Homo sapiens: one gene and its partners. The protein of the gene in region 1 purifies or fractionates together with the protein of each later gene. This does not show direct contact. Each region holds a gene or a part of one and is shown on either strand. Other genes may lie near its edges.

Evidence for each region. The genes of interacting proteins can lie anywhere in the genome.
Region 2: the proteins of ESRRB (region 1) and DNAJC10 purify together in Homo sapiens (affinity purification with mass spectrometry, with the first as the bait; one large-scale study listed by BioGRID). This does not show direct contact.
Region 3: the proteins of ESRRB (region 1) and PKDREJ purify together in Homo sapiens (affinity purification with mass spectrometry, with the first as the bait; one large-scale study listed by BioGRID). This does not show direct contact.
Region 4: the proteins of ESRRB (region 1) and SPTBN4 purify together in Homo sapiens (affinity purification with mass spectrometry, with the first as the bait; one large-scale study listed by BioGRID). This does not show direct contact.

The regions. Positions count from the first base shown.
Region 1 is NC_000014.9:76,477,137-76,480,636, reverse strand, and holds part of ESRRB (steroid hormone receptor ERR2), read right to left. Parts: intron 1-3,500.
Region 2 is NC_000002.12:182,792,111-182,794,964, reverse strand, and holds the end of DNAJC10 (dnaJ homolog subfamily C member 10 isoform 1 precursor), read right to left. Parts: 3' UTR 501-2,854; downstream 1-500. UniProt on the Homo sapiens protein: Endoplasmic reticulum disulfide reductase involved both in the correct folding of proteins and degradation of misfolded proteins.
Region 3 is NC_000022.11:46,260,544-46,264,719, forward strand, and holds the start of PKDREJ (polycystin family receptor for egg jelly precursor), read right to left. Parts: upstream 2,801-4,176; 5' UTR 2,780-2,800; coding exon 1-2,779. UniProt on the Homo sapiens protein: Testis-specific protein that controls sperm transport and the timing of zona pellucida-evoked exocytosis of the sperm acrosome.
Region 4 is NC_000019.10:40,473,501-40,477,000, forward strand, and holds part of SPTBN4 (spectrin beta chain, non-erythrocytic 4), read left to right. Parts: intron 1-3,500.

The DNA.
Region 1 (3,500 bases):
GAACAGGCAAGGGGAAGTCAGAACAATGGTTACTTAATGGAATGATGATTTAGAGCCCATTCATGCCTGGGGCTATTTTCTGGCTGTTTCTTTGTTAGGATGTTCAGCTACTAAATTTCAGTCCCTGAGAAGAAGGAAGTTTCCTAGAGCAACTGAAAGCAAAATTACTTTGTTTACTGAATGAGTGGAGAAAACTCCTTTAAGTGCACATTGCCCTAAAGGAACTTTGGGATGCTAAGGACACTACCCCCCACCCCTCTGCTGCCCCAGGTGTTTTCAGTTCAGGACTCCAGCCCTGGAGGGCAAGGATGCTGTGAGTTCACTGAGTGAGCCCACAACTCCTCATTTTTGTCAGCAATGTCTTTTTCAACCCCACAACCTGGTGTATTTGTACCTGGTGCTAAACGTTTTTTAGTCGGGGAGAGGGGGAGTCTACTCAGCAGCCCACCCAGGCTTCCTGTTTAAAGGTAATTCCCCTGGTCAGGTGCGGTGGCTCACCCCTGTAATCCCAGCACTTTGGGAGGCCGTAGCCCTTGAGGTCAGGAGTTCAAGATCAGCCTAGCTACCATGGCGAAACCCCATCTCTACCAAAAATACAAAAATTAGCCAGGTGTGGTGGCACGTGCCTGTAATTCCAGCTACTCGGGTGGCTGAGGCACAAGGATCGCTTGAACCCAGGAGGTGGAGGTTGCAGTGAGCTGAGATTGCACCACTGCACTCCAGCCTGAGTAACAGAGTGAGACTCCATCTCAAAAGAAAATTTAAAAAATGTAATTCCCCTATTGGGAATACGGAAACTGTTGGAAGTCTGTGTCCCACCCCTCAATGGATATCTGAGAAGTACATGTTCTCCTTCTCTCTGCTCTCTGGAGGTCAAGGCATGGACCCGTGACACAGGCTCAGCCAAGTGCACCATCAAACGGAGGCACAAGGACAGAGCGAAGGTGAGGACTGATCAGACCAGCAGCGCCTCCCCAGCAGAGTGTAGGCAGCCCCTGGCCAGTATGTCCTGGCTACTGGGTTTCCTGCTCCTGGGCTCTCCAGGGATTCTCCTGGTTCTTGTCTGGTTTCTAAATGTACTCTTTGAACCTCCTGATAGGCTTCCAATAAACTCCCCTTCTGCCTAGAAGGTCAGGTTTTGTAACTGACATTTGTTGTTGACTTCTCCAGGAGCAGAATCTGAGACAAGGCTGTGCATGCGAGCAGTTTCCAAGGAGGGAAGAAAGCCAATAACAAATGTGTTCCTGAGGACAGTACTGCTGTGGGCAACTGAGGCTCCCAGCTACCGGCTGCTTTGGCGCTTCTTGCCTGCCTCCCAGGTCCAGGCTGAGCAGACTCTGGTGGCCAAAGAAAGCCTAGGCGTCAGATCAGCACACACACACACACGCACGCATGCACACGTACACACACACACACACAAACAGACAGTGCTGAGTAGGTGTGGGCAGGAGCAGTCTCCGCTGTCTTCCTCCTCAAGTGTGGTCTGCAGGCCAGCATCATCACCATCATTTGAGGCTTGTTAGATGCCTCAAAATCTCAGGCCTGGCCACAGAGGAATCAGACAAGGTGATTTGCACGGACAACAGAGTTTGAGGAGCACTGCACTAAGGCATCCTAGCAAACGCAGCTGTACCATCAACTTCTGCCTGTACCTTGGACCCTAAAGGGACAGCTAGATGCCATCCAGCTCCAGACCTGAACCTATGTGCTGCTAGCACTTTGGCTCACATTTGCTCCCTCACCCCCTGCAAGCCCCTTCAGTGACAGCATAAGGAGCAGACACAAACACAGGAAGGATGATTCTTCCTGTAAAAGTCTTTTGGGAAAAGTTCCCTGTCTAGAAAAGCTTTCTGACTCTATCCTGTGACATGTCTACATAGAAGCCTCCTCTGTTCACTATACCCAGGCCAAACCAAACCCTCCACCAAGTTCTGCTTCCCCTTGGAATGGTGACAGGACCGAAAGTGAAAACGGTCCACCTCATCCATAAGAGACAGTAAGGGCCCCCACTTACTGAGCACCTACTATATGCCAGGATCTTAAACATATACTCTCCTTGAGTCCAGGACAAGCCCCTTCCCCACTTTACTGACCTTCTCTCCTAGATACCACTGGAATGAACTCTCGCTTCCCATCCAGCCTGCTTCCCGGCAAGCAGCTGTCAATCAGAGTGAGGCATGCTCAACACAAAATAAAAAGAGGTGTCTGTCCCTCGGCAAGGCAAGGAGATGGGCAGCTGCCACCTCTGCCGATGTCTCCATCTGGGATGTTCTGTGTCCTGATATAGGGCCTGACCTTTCATGGATGTTCAGGAAAGACTTGATGAATACAGGGGTGGATGTACCTCTGTCCTCCTCATCCCCATGCCAGGCTGGGGGCTTCTTCATGGGCTCCCAGAGCACACTGGGCTTCCCCTACTGACTAGGCACCCGTTAAGGCCAGGGGCGGCTCACAGTCCTGCCCCAAAGTCTGTCATGGTACCCAAGATGCAGCATGTGCTTAGAAAATGGGATTATTATGGTTATTATCATCATCCTTATTATTACTGTTCCCCAGCATTGCATCCAAGTTTTTGGTAAATCACATGAATAATGATAATGATAACAGCATAATTTGTAAAGGACTCTCTGTATGTATTACCCTACTTAACCCACAAAAATATAAGGCAGGTGCTATTATCCTCATTTTACAAATAAGAAAAACTGAGGCTCAGAGAGATTCAGTGATTTCCCCAATAAAAGACCCAAGCTTTTTGCCATTCCATGGTATGACCTCCCAGCGCACAGCAAATGTTAAATTCTCCTCTAAATTTTCTCCTCCTGATCTTTACAGCATAGTGGTCAATGGCTCCAATCAATACGTGTATCAATTATCAGATTACGCTGTTAAAAAAACAGTAGCCTGTTGGGTTTAATTATGCACAAACTGACACCTGATGTGAAATGTGTCTGTTCCCCTTGCTTCCTGTCTGCTCTTCTGAGCCTGCCCTAAGCACAGCCCACAATCACTGCAGCCCATGGGCTCGATAATGAAGGTCCCATGCCCATCTCTGTCCCTTACGGGTTATTTCAGGTTATTTGGCCTTGGACAAGTGGGCTTCAGCTGCATCTTCAGGTCTGGGGAAGGAGGCGATGGTAAAACCAACTCTGCTCAAGGTAGATGGCTTTTGTGACAATTGTATGACTTAATGATGAGAAAATGCTTGGTAAGCTGGAAAGCAGTTCCAGTAGGCTGGGTGAGGCCATCTCTTCTACCACCCTCCTGCCAACCCATAGCACTTCAACATTCATCTGATACCTCACAGGCCACCTCATGCTGGTTTCCCTTTATACCCATCAGCTCTTCGATTCGATGGGTTCTTAGAGGACAGGACCCTGGCTTGCTCTATTTCTCCCCTGCTCTGGCACTGCCTCACACTCAGGACTTGCTAGGGCCATTTAGAGTGGGAGGGTCCTGTGACACAGACCTGTGCACCCCTAGCCTGGGGTTGGGGAAGATGG
Region 2 (2,854 bases), on another chromosome or scaffold:
ACCGGATGGCCCTTCCATACTCTAGAGCTGCTGCTGCCAGTTTAACATCTATACTGGTTAATTTCATACATTCAAACACCTTACTTCATTTTCTTATCCATCTGCTGTAGCAATGTCACAAACTGGAAACCCCAGGCTGGATATGGTATTGTTTGACCCTCATATATTTAAATGTTTTAAGTAGTTGTGAACATTTGAAATATTTTACATAAAAACCCGGATTGGGGTAAATTCTGGGTAAACTGGAACATCTGGGTCTCTTTCTTCATGACAATACTCTTTTGGAGCAGAGAAACTACTGCCTTTTTAAAATAGTGCATGCACTAACTACCGTCATGTACTTTACCTACAAAACACCCTTAACTATGTGAGTTTGCAATGCCTGACTACAGCCTCACTTCACTCTGGAAGATAAGGACATTCGTACTTCTACCCGTCCTTAACCTGGGTCAGTGTATATAATTATTTTTATGTTGTTAAGCTGAAAATTGGTGACACAATTTGCATTTTTGTGACAAGTTTATTTCACTTCTACATGTTATAAAAAAACATAGCTCACTGCAAAGACAAACAGTAGAATCAAATCTAGAATGACATTTCTTACTCTGTAAGTTTAATGTGGTCATCATGCAAAGGAGAGAATCTGAATGGATTATTTCTATCCTTCATCTATTGTTTCCTATGTACTCAAATTTTTCTGAGGTCCGCAAATACGCATCTGACTTATTGCCTCATTCTTTCTCCTCAGAGACTTCTTTCCCAAGCTCTCTGCTCTCTCGCCCCATCTGCCCCAGGTGATGTTTAGGCCTCCTACTTAGCTGCTGTCCTGTGGATTTGTTCACTGCTCTCTTGGGTTGGAGTCACTGTTTCTTGGATCCCCATGCATTGTTGTTTATGCCTTCATTTGGAGGAGGTGTTTCATCACCTAACCACCTAAAAATATATTTATCATCTGCCTGCTACTTGTTAGTCTGGGTAGGTATGAATAGAATCCTAGGTTAAAAATATTTTCCTCTCAGAATTTGGAAGGCTTTGCTCCAAAGTCTTCTAGAATACTTCAAGCTCCAATTACTTTCTAATTGTTATTTTTTTGTAGGTAGTGTGTGTGTGTGTGTGTGTGTGTGTGTGTGTGTGTGTGTGTGTGATGTGTTTCCTCTCTGGAAAATTTTAGGATTGCTAAATTAAATAAGCAAGAGGACCTTGGCCTGAGGCTGTCTCCAGACTTTGAGTTCCCATGTAATAAATTGCAACCTAATTTAGTACTTAAATAAACTGAAACCTAATTTAGGATTATATAGATATATTTTTGTAACAGATAGGTCACAGCCAATTGCATGCTGCCAACTTGCCTTATTTGGAGCAGACCATGTCCAAATAAGGCAAATGCCTATCTGTAACCAATCAAGCTATTTCTGTACTTAATTTTTGTTTTCTGTCTATGAATGTTCACTGCATACCTCGCAAAGCAGAGCTCTCTGAATGTCTTCTGGTTCTCAGTGCTGCCTGATGGATGAATTGTTCTTCACTCAAATAAAATGTTAAATATATTTTGCTGAAAGTTTCTCTTTTACCAGGATCTTCTTTTTGGTTCTGGAATTTCACAATTTCACTGTGAGTAGAAGTTGAAGTCCTTACAAAAGTTAGAAAGCTAAAGTCCTTACAAGTGACCTGCAAAGCCCTCTATGATCTGGCTCCCCACTTTCTCTCTCCCTCTAACTTCATCTTCTCTCCTGCTAGCTCACTCCATTCCAGCCACATGAGCCTCCCTGCTGTTCCTTGAACCTGCCAAGCATGCCTTGGAGCCTGTCCTCTGGCCTTTCTCTCTGTTCATATGCTCTACCCTCAGCCCATTTAGTGGCTACATTTTTTCCACCTCCTTCAATGGCATCTTCTCCAAGAGACCTGCCCTGTCCACCCTATTTAATACCGAAACTCTCCTGCTGCTGCCCCCACACTCCTAATCCCTCATACCCTGGTCTACCTTTTTCTTTATTTCACAGCACATCTTCTAACATACTTCTAACATACTTAACATTTGCTTATATTAATTGTTTATTGTCTATCTCCCCACTGCGAGAATAGAATCTTCATGAGGTCAATACATTTAATACACTATCTTAAATGCATAGAACAAAGCCTAGCACATTGTAAGTACTCAAATAAATGTTTGCTGAGTGACATGGGGCTCATGTTGAGCTCATGTAACTTCCTCATAAATGATTTCTATTCAGGAAGGCCAAAGGAAAGATGACAAGGAGGATTACGATGTTCCATTAGCGGAAGAATTGAGTCTAACTTCACACACTTCTCTTGCAGATAAACTGGTTTGAGGTTATAGGCCTCTAATTTATCAAGAAAGAAACTGGCATGCATTTAGATGGACTGCTTAAGCCAATAGGTCTGTAATCTGTGGGGAGCAAAGAGGTGTTCTTTCAAACAATGAGAGGTTAAACAATACATTTATCAGATGGGACTTTTGTGAACATTGAGGGACAAAACAGGAAGCTGAAAAGGAAACCAATCAATTCTACCAGGGTTTATAACAGCTGTAATGAAAAGCCTTGGGGAAGGAAAGAAATTGGAATATATCCTCTTCATTATTTTTTGTACCTCAAAATGTTATCCTGTTCCACAACCCTCAAAACCCCTCACAAAGATAACCAACTACTGTAATCCTCATTTAATAAACATAGACTTCAGATAGTGCATTTAATTCTAATGAAACTTGTGCAAGATTATAGCATGGAGATAAAAAAATAATTGTTCACTGATGGTATGCAAGCATTTGTGAGGATTACTTATAAATTGACTTGAGCATCTCTTTTTTCTTTAATTTACTCTTTGAACATGTATT
Region 3 (4,176 bases), on another chromosome or scaffold:
CCACCGAAGTGTTTTCCTGATCATTTAACCAAGGAAAGAGGTCATTTGTGAAATCACAAAACATTGTAGAAATGGGACCATTTGCAGACAGACCAGGAACACTGCTCACATTGAGTGTTGGATAAAAACAATTTCTGCAGTGTTTCTCATTTCTGAAGAGCTGGTTGATACCCCACTTTTCAACTTTCTTGACATACATGTTGAAATTGGGGGTTCTCATTGAGGTGGTTTTGTTCCCTGGCACTTTATTAGCCAGTATTGTGTCTGATAGAGATTCTATTACATAGAAAGGATCTTTAACTACTTGGTGAGGAGAAGTCATTTTAAGAATATTAGACAAACTCATTAGTATTCCAGTACTCACGATTTCTATTTGTTCAGATCGAAAGCGTTTATCTTTTTGCTGATACTCTTGTAGGGCTTGATTTGCTTGCCATACCCTCATGGTGGCACGTTTCTGAGCATCCCAAGTGAATTCAGAGGGTTTCTGGGTTAATTTGGTAATAGTCATGACTACCTGGCCAATTTCTACCAAAGTGCTTACAGGAAGAAGGAAAGACTGATCGATGAGGTGTTTTCGGAGATTGACTCTGTCATCTCGGAGAGGTAATTCAGTTTTCATGTTATTCAAAACGGAAGCTACTATATACAGTAAGTAACCTGCAGGTAAAAAATCCTTCTTTTGAATCAAAGTAGACAGCAATGAACTTGGTCCCACGGTGAAACTGAGTAACTGATTCAACACTGTCTTTGATGAATTTTTGTCAGTGGGAGCCTGTGCGGTGGCATGCAAAGTCACCTGAGAAAAAGCTCCTAGAGAATCATAGACCTGGGCATATATCTTCAAGCCATATTGACTAGCCAACATACCAACAGGGAGAAAGGAAGGGGGTACTGTGGACTGAGGCCCCAAGTACAGGATGGTCCCCAGGGTGTTCTCTTTTACTGAACTGATTTCACCAACACTGTGCAAATCAGAAACAATTATTTTATATGTAAGAGGGACGTGCTTATCCCTAAAATTACTACACTGGACAACAAATTTAGTAATAAGTGCAATTCCTTTAGCTGGATTAATTTTGCATTCTCCGATCTGAGGGCCATGGTTAATAATAAAAGAATGCCTGAAGACCGAGGTCACTCCACTCCAACATGCTAGATACAGAGAAATCGAAAACTCAGCTTCCAAAAAATGCCGAAAAGCAAAAGCTTTTATAGACAGATAAGCACCATTCCTTCCTGTTACAGTTTCCCCCATCCAATCAAATAGCATCTCACCACCTGAAGAAGACAAAATTGACCATTTATAGAAATCACGGCTTGCACAATTTGTGCAATTTAGGAACAAAGAAAATCTATCAGAGACAATGAAGTTTCTCTCACAATTTTCGATACATGTGATGTGTGCTATGGCTTTTGGTCCTTGGAGCACGTGGACCCTCTTATCAGAAAACGCTGTCCTAGAGTCCTTCCGAATCACCATTCTGAAGAAATACACGTGGTCGCCTTTAAGTGTTTCTGGCAAAAGTGTCAGTACAGGGCCCGAGGCCCAGGGCCATTTCAGATTGGCCTGCTCGGGGTGACAGACTTCCTTGCTCCCCAGGATTATTCGATCCCCACCGTAGTTTCTGGGATCTGTGGTACAGTACCAAAAGAACTGGAGTCCCTGTAACGGGCTGTCCGCATCTGGGTCCGAGGACGTGGACCCGTCCAGAATCAGCTGCTCTGTGAAATTAGCTGTTATGTTGGCATCGCCAAGCATCACCGCCTGCAGGGAACTCCTGACGATCCAGACATAGACGGCGTCCGAGTCTTTCACCTCGGGCATCTTGGGGTTCCCTGTGGTGATGGACACCGTGAAATTAAACACATACACTCCCCACTGTAACGAATTATTGGGGATGTGAATGAACAAGGGGCTGTTCCTGATCTCGAGCTGGGGCAGATCCAAGGGCTGCGTCCAGTCGGGCGCCTGACCCACGGCGGGCACGGAGAACACCTGCCAGTACTGGGCGATGGCGCGCGCGGCCGGGCAGTCCAGCTGCACCGAGGCGTTGATGGTGGCCTCCGCCTGCATGCTCAGGCGCACGGGGGCGCCCTTCTGGTCCGTGTTGATCCTCACGCGCTGGATGACGCAGGCGTTTATCTGACAGGACACGGACGACTCGACGGCTCTGTGGCTGGACGAGTTGACGGCCTGCAACATCACGCGCGCGGGGCCGTCTGTGGGGCACTCGGTGCGGGCCACGAAGCCCTGCTGGGGCCGCGGGCCTGGCGCGGCGGAGCGCGGGGAGACGCGGGCCGCGGGGGAGGCCGGGCGGGCGGCGCCGGGTCCGAGCAGCCGCAGGCGGAAGGCCCAGGCCAGGCGCCCGGGCGAGCGCGGCAGCCGCACGGACCACGTCAGGGAGAGGCGGCCGCCGCGCGCGGAGAGCTGCAGGTCGACGAGCGCGAGCGCGGGCGCGGCCGGCCAGGGCAGGCGTTGGGCGCTGAGCAGGACGCGCAAGTCGAGGCAGTACCAGCGCCGCCCGGTCCCGCCATGGGGGAAGCAGAGGCTGCCGCGGCCGCTCAGGACAGCGCCGCCCGCCCGCACCGCGCTGGGCCGCAGACTGAGGAGGGCGCGGCCGCCGCGCACCCCGAGGCCCGGGGCGCCCCTGAGGAGGCCACCGGGCGCCCCGGAGACGGCGGCTTGTGCCCCGCGAGGAACCGGCGGCAGCGGGAGGCGGCCGACGCTCAGGCTCAGGCCCACGCCCAGAAGGAGGAGAGCGGGCCCAGGCCTCATGGCGCCGGCCCAGGAGAAGCTGGGAGAGGCCGCGAGGCGCGCCCAACCGCCACCGGGGTCGCGGGGATAGTGAGGGTCTTGGGGACAGTGGGGGTCTCGGGCGTCGAAGGGCGCTGGCAGAGGGGTCCCAGGGACAGAGTCCCAGAGAGCAGCTGGGACCTCGGAGCTTGGGGTCAGTCGGCACTGGGGACTTCTTGGGTACCTCTTCCCTCTCCGTCCCCAAGTGTGTGCAGGCCCAGGGTCAGGATGGCTCAGGAGGGCAGTTCAGCCCCGTGCAGACCACAGAGCTGACCACGGAGAAGGGGCTTCAGCAGGAACCCTTGGGAAAGCCAGTCACAAAATGGGAGATCAGGAGGGAACCGTGAGATCCCTGGGCGCCCAGGAAGGTCTGACTCTCGGTTTCTTACTTTGGGGTCGCTTTGCTCTTTTCTTTCTAGTTGGTTTGGGGGTTTTGTTTTTTGTTTGTTTGTTTGTTTGTTTGTTTTTTGAGACGGAGTCTCTGTCACCCAGGCTGGAGTGCAATGGCTTGACCTCAAGTGATCCACCCACCTCGGCCTCCCAAAGTGCTGGGATTACAGGCATGAGCCACTGTGCCTGGCCTCATTCTTTAACTCTGTCCATTTTTGCTGTATATTTTGGGACTTGATTGATGGATTGAATGATTTTAGAGACAGGGTCTTGCTCTGTTGCCCAGGCTGGAGTGCAATGGTGCAATCATAGCTGACTGTAACCTTGAACTCCTGGGCTCAAGGAATCCTCCTGCCTCAGCCTCCCATACTACAGGTCTACACCACTACACCTGACTGATTTATTTTTTATTTTTGTAGAGATGGTGTCTTGCTGTGTTTCACAGGCTGGTCTCAAACTCGTGGTCTTAATTGGCCCTCCCCTGTATTAGTCCGTTTTCATGCTGCTGATAAAGACATAACCAAGACTGGGAAGAAAAAGAGGTTTAATTGGACTTACAGTTCCATATGGCTGGGGAGGCCTCAGAATCATGGCAGGAGGCAAAAAGCACTTCTTGCATGGCAGTGGCAAGAGAAAATGAGGAAGACGCAAAAGCGGAAACCCCTGATAAAAGCATCAGATCTCCTGAGACTTATTCACTACCACAGAACAATATGGGGGAAACTGCCCCTGTGATTCAGTTATCTCCCACCCGGTCCCTCCCACAACATGTGGGAATTATGGGACTATAAGATGAGATTTGGGTGGGGACACAGAGCCAAACTATATCATTCCACCCCTGCCAAATCTCATCTCCTCACATTTCAAAACCAATCATGCCTTCCCAACAGTCCTCCAAAGTCTTAACTCATTTCACATTAACTCAAAAGTCCACAGTCCAAAGTCCTGTCTGAGACAAAGGAAGTCGCTTATGCTTATGAGCCTGTAAA
Region 4 (3,500 bases), on another chromosome or scaffold:
GCATGTGCCACCACGCCCAGCTAATTTTGTATTTTTACTAGAGACGGGGTTTCTCCATGTTGGTCAGGCTGGTCTCGAACTCCCAACCTCAGGTGATCCACATGTCTCGGCCTCCCAAAGTGCTGAGATTACAGGCATGAGCCACGGCACCCGGCCTGTTTTAATTAAATTTAAATAGCCACATGTGGCTTGTGACTGCTGTATAGGTCAGCACAGCCTTAGAGCCTTAGAAATGTACAGTCCCAGAATGGTGGGACTCTGTAAGCATATTCCCTTAGAATCCCGAAATGCAGAGCCATCAGATCCTTGGAACTTGAAATGTCTAAGAGATTCTTAGACCTCTTGAAATGAAGACCTCTGGCCTGGCGCGGTGGCTCACGCCTGTAATCCCAGCACTTTGGGAGGCAAAGGTGGACAGATCTCTTGAGTGCAGGAGTTCGAGACCATGTTCGCCAACATAGTGAAACCCTGTCTCTACTAAAAATAAAAATAAAAAAAAAAATTAGCCAGGCGTGGTGGCATGCATCTGTAGTTCCAGCTATTTGGGAGGCTGAGGTGGGAGGATGGCCTGAGACTGTGAGGTGGAGATTGCAGTGAGTCAAGATCGCGCCACTGCACTCCAGCCCCAGCAGTAAAGCAAGAACCTATCTCAAAAAAAAAAAAAAAAAAAAAAAAAAAAGAGCTTTGGAAATGTGAAACGTTATCATCACAGACCTAAGAAATTTTAGTCATTGTTCCCTAGGATCATAGGCCCTTAGAAACTGAAACTGTAATACACAGGAACCTTTGGGACTTGATAATACTAAACCTTTGGAGTTTCCAATTAGAAATGTGGATCTTGAGAAATCTGACATAGAGTGACCAAAACCTTCCTGCTTTTACCACCGAAACTCTCAGCCTTGGGCCAACCAGTACAGTGGGTCACCCTACCATTTTTTTTTTTTTTTTGAGTCAGGGTCTCACTCTTCACCCAGGCTGGAGTGCAGTGGTGTGATCATGGCTCACTGCAGCCTTGAACTCCTGGACTCAAGTGATCCTCCCACCTCAGCCTCCTGAATAGCTGGAACTACAGGCATGCGCCACCATGCCTGGCTAATTAAAAATAATTTTTTTTTTTGGCGAAGCATGGTGGCGGATGCCTGTAATCCCAGCACTTTGGGAGGCTGAGGCGGATGGATCACTTGAGATCAGGAGTTTGAGACCAGCCTGACCAATATGGTGACACTACTAAAAATACAAAAATTAGATGGGTGTGGTGGTGGGCACCTGTAATCTCAGCTACCCAGGAGGCTGAGGCAGGAGAATCACTTGAACCCGGGAGATGGGGGTTTCAGTGAGCTGAGATCACACCATTTCAATCCATCCTAAGTGACAAGAGCTTAACTCCGTCTCAAAACAAAACAAAAAAATTTTTTTGTAAGATGGGGTCTTGCTATGTTGCCCAGGCTGGTGTGGAACTCCTGGGCTAAAATAACCCTCCCACCTCGGCCTCCGAAAGTGCTTTGATTACAGGGGTAAGCCAGAGTGCCTAGTAGTCACCCTACTTTGATGTATCAGAACAATATTAGCAAAGACCAGAGAACTTTATAGTTATAGAAAGACCTTAGACCTTTAGAACTGTAGACCCTTGAACCTTAGTACTTAGTATTCATAGAGGTCTGGAACCTTAGAAGTGTTTAATCATCAGCATTAAAACTGGCAAAGACCCTGAGGAGCCTCAGAGATATGGAACGTCATAATCATAAGCCTTTAAAACATGACACCCTAGCACCTTTGACCCTTGGGACCTTAACATCTTAGAAACACGGAGCGCTAGAATCATAAAATATAGATGATCATAATCATGAATTCTTAAAACCCAAAGGTCAGAATCAGTTCCCTCCAAATCTTAGAACTTTAGTAACTCAGCAGTTTATAATCACAAGATGGATCTCTGATACTAAGATTTTTGGAACTTTATTTATTTATTTATTTATTTGAGGTGGAGTCTCACTCTGTTGCCCAGGCTGGAGTGCAGTGGCGCAATGTCAGCTCACTGCAACCTCCACCTCCCAGGTTCATGAGATTCTCCCGCCTCGGGAGTCCCGAGTAGCTGGGACTACAGGCCCGCACCACCATGCCTGGCTAATTTTTGTATTTTTAATTGAGGCGGGGTTTCACCATGATGGCCAGGCTGGTCTTGAACTCCTGGGCTCGGGCAATCTGCCCACCTTGGCCTCCCAAAATGCTAGGATTACAGGCATGAGCCATGGCGCTGGCTCAAGAAACCTGGCTGATCTAGAAACCTGTAGTCCCAGCACTTTGAGAGGCCGAGGCGGGCGGATCGCTTGAGCCCAGGAGTTCGAGACCAGCCTGGCCAACATGGTGAAACCCCGTCTCTACTAAAAATATAAACATTAGCCAGGTGTGGTGGCGCATGCCTGTAGTTCCAGCTAGTCAACAGGCTGAGGTGGGAGAATCTCCTGAGCCCGGGAAGCAGAGGTTGCAGTGAGCCGAGATTGTGCCACTGCACTCCAGCCTGGGCAACAGGTTGAGACCCTGTCTCAAAACAATAAGAAACCTGGTTAGGCGCGGTAGCTCACGCCTATAATCCCAGCGCTTTGGGAGGCCAAGGTGGGGGGATCACTGGAGGTTGGGTGTTTGAGACCAGCCTGGCCAGCACGGCAAAACCCTGTCTCTATTAAAAATACAAAAATTAGCTGGGTGTGGTGGCGCGTGCCTCTAATCCCAGCTACTCAGGAGGATGAGGCAGGAGAATCGCCTGAACCTCAGAGGCGGAGGTTGCAGTGAGCCTAGATCGTGCCATTGTACTCCAGCCTGGGCGTCAATAGCAAAACTCTGTCTCAAAAAAAAAAAAAAAAAAGAGAGAGAGAGAGAAATCTGTATATGCCACAAAGTATGAACCAGATTCAACTGGTGGATTGCCAGCTTTGTCTGATCTAGAAACCTAGACTGATGAAAACATACACTCATGGAAACTTACAGTCATACTTTTAGAGCCTTAGAACCTTAAAAAGGTAGGAACATATCAACTTAGAATTCTAGAATTTACTAATTTAGTGTAAGTGAGTTTGTTTTTAGTTTTGTTTGTTTGTTTTTGTTTTTGAGAAGGAGTCTTGCTCTGTCGCCCAGGCTGGAGGGCAGTGACACTATCTCGGCTCACTGCAAGCTCCGCCTCCTGGGTTCATGCCATTCTCCTGCCTCAGCCTCCCGAGTAGCTAGGACTACAGGCGCCTGCCACCATGCCCCGCTAATTTTTTGTATTTTTAGCAGAGATGGGGTTTCACTGTGTTAGCCAGGATGGTTTTGATCTCCTGACCGCGTGATCTGCCCGCCTTGGCCTCCCAAAGTGCTGGAATTACAGGCATGAGCCACCGCGCCCGTCCTGTTTTTAGTTTTTGTTTGTTTTTTGAGGAGGAGGGGGTCTCTCCATGTTGCCTAGACAGGTCTCAAACTCCCGGTGTCAACTCATCCTTCTGAGTAGCTGGGATTACAGATGT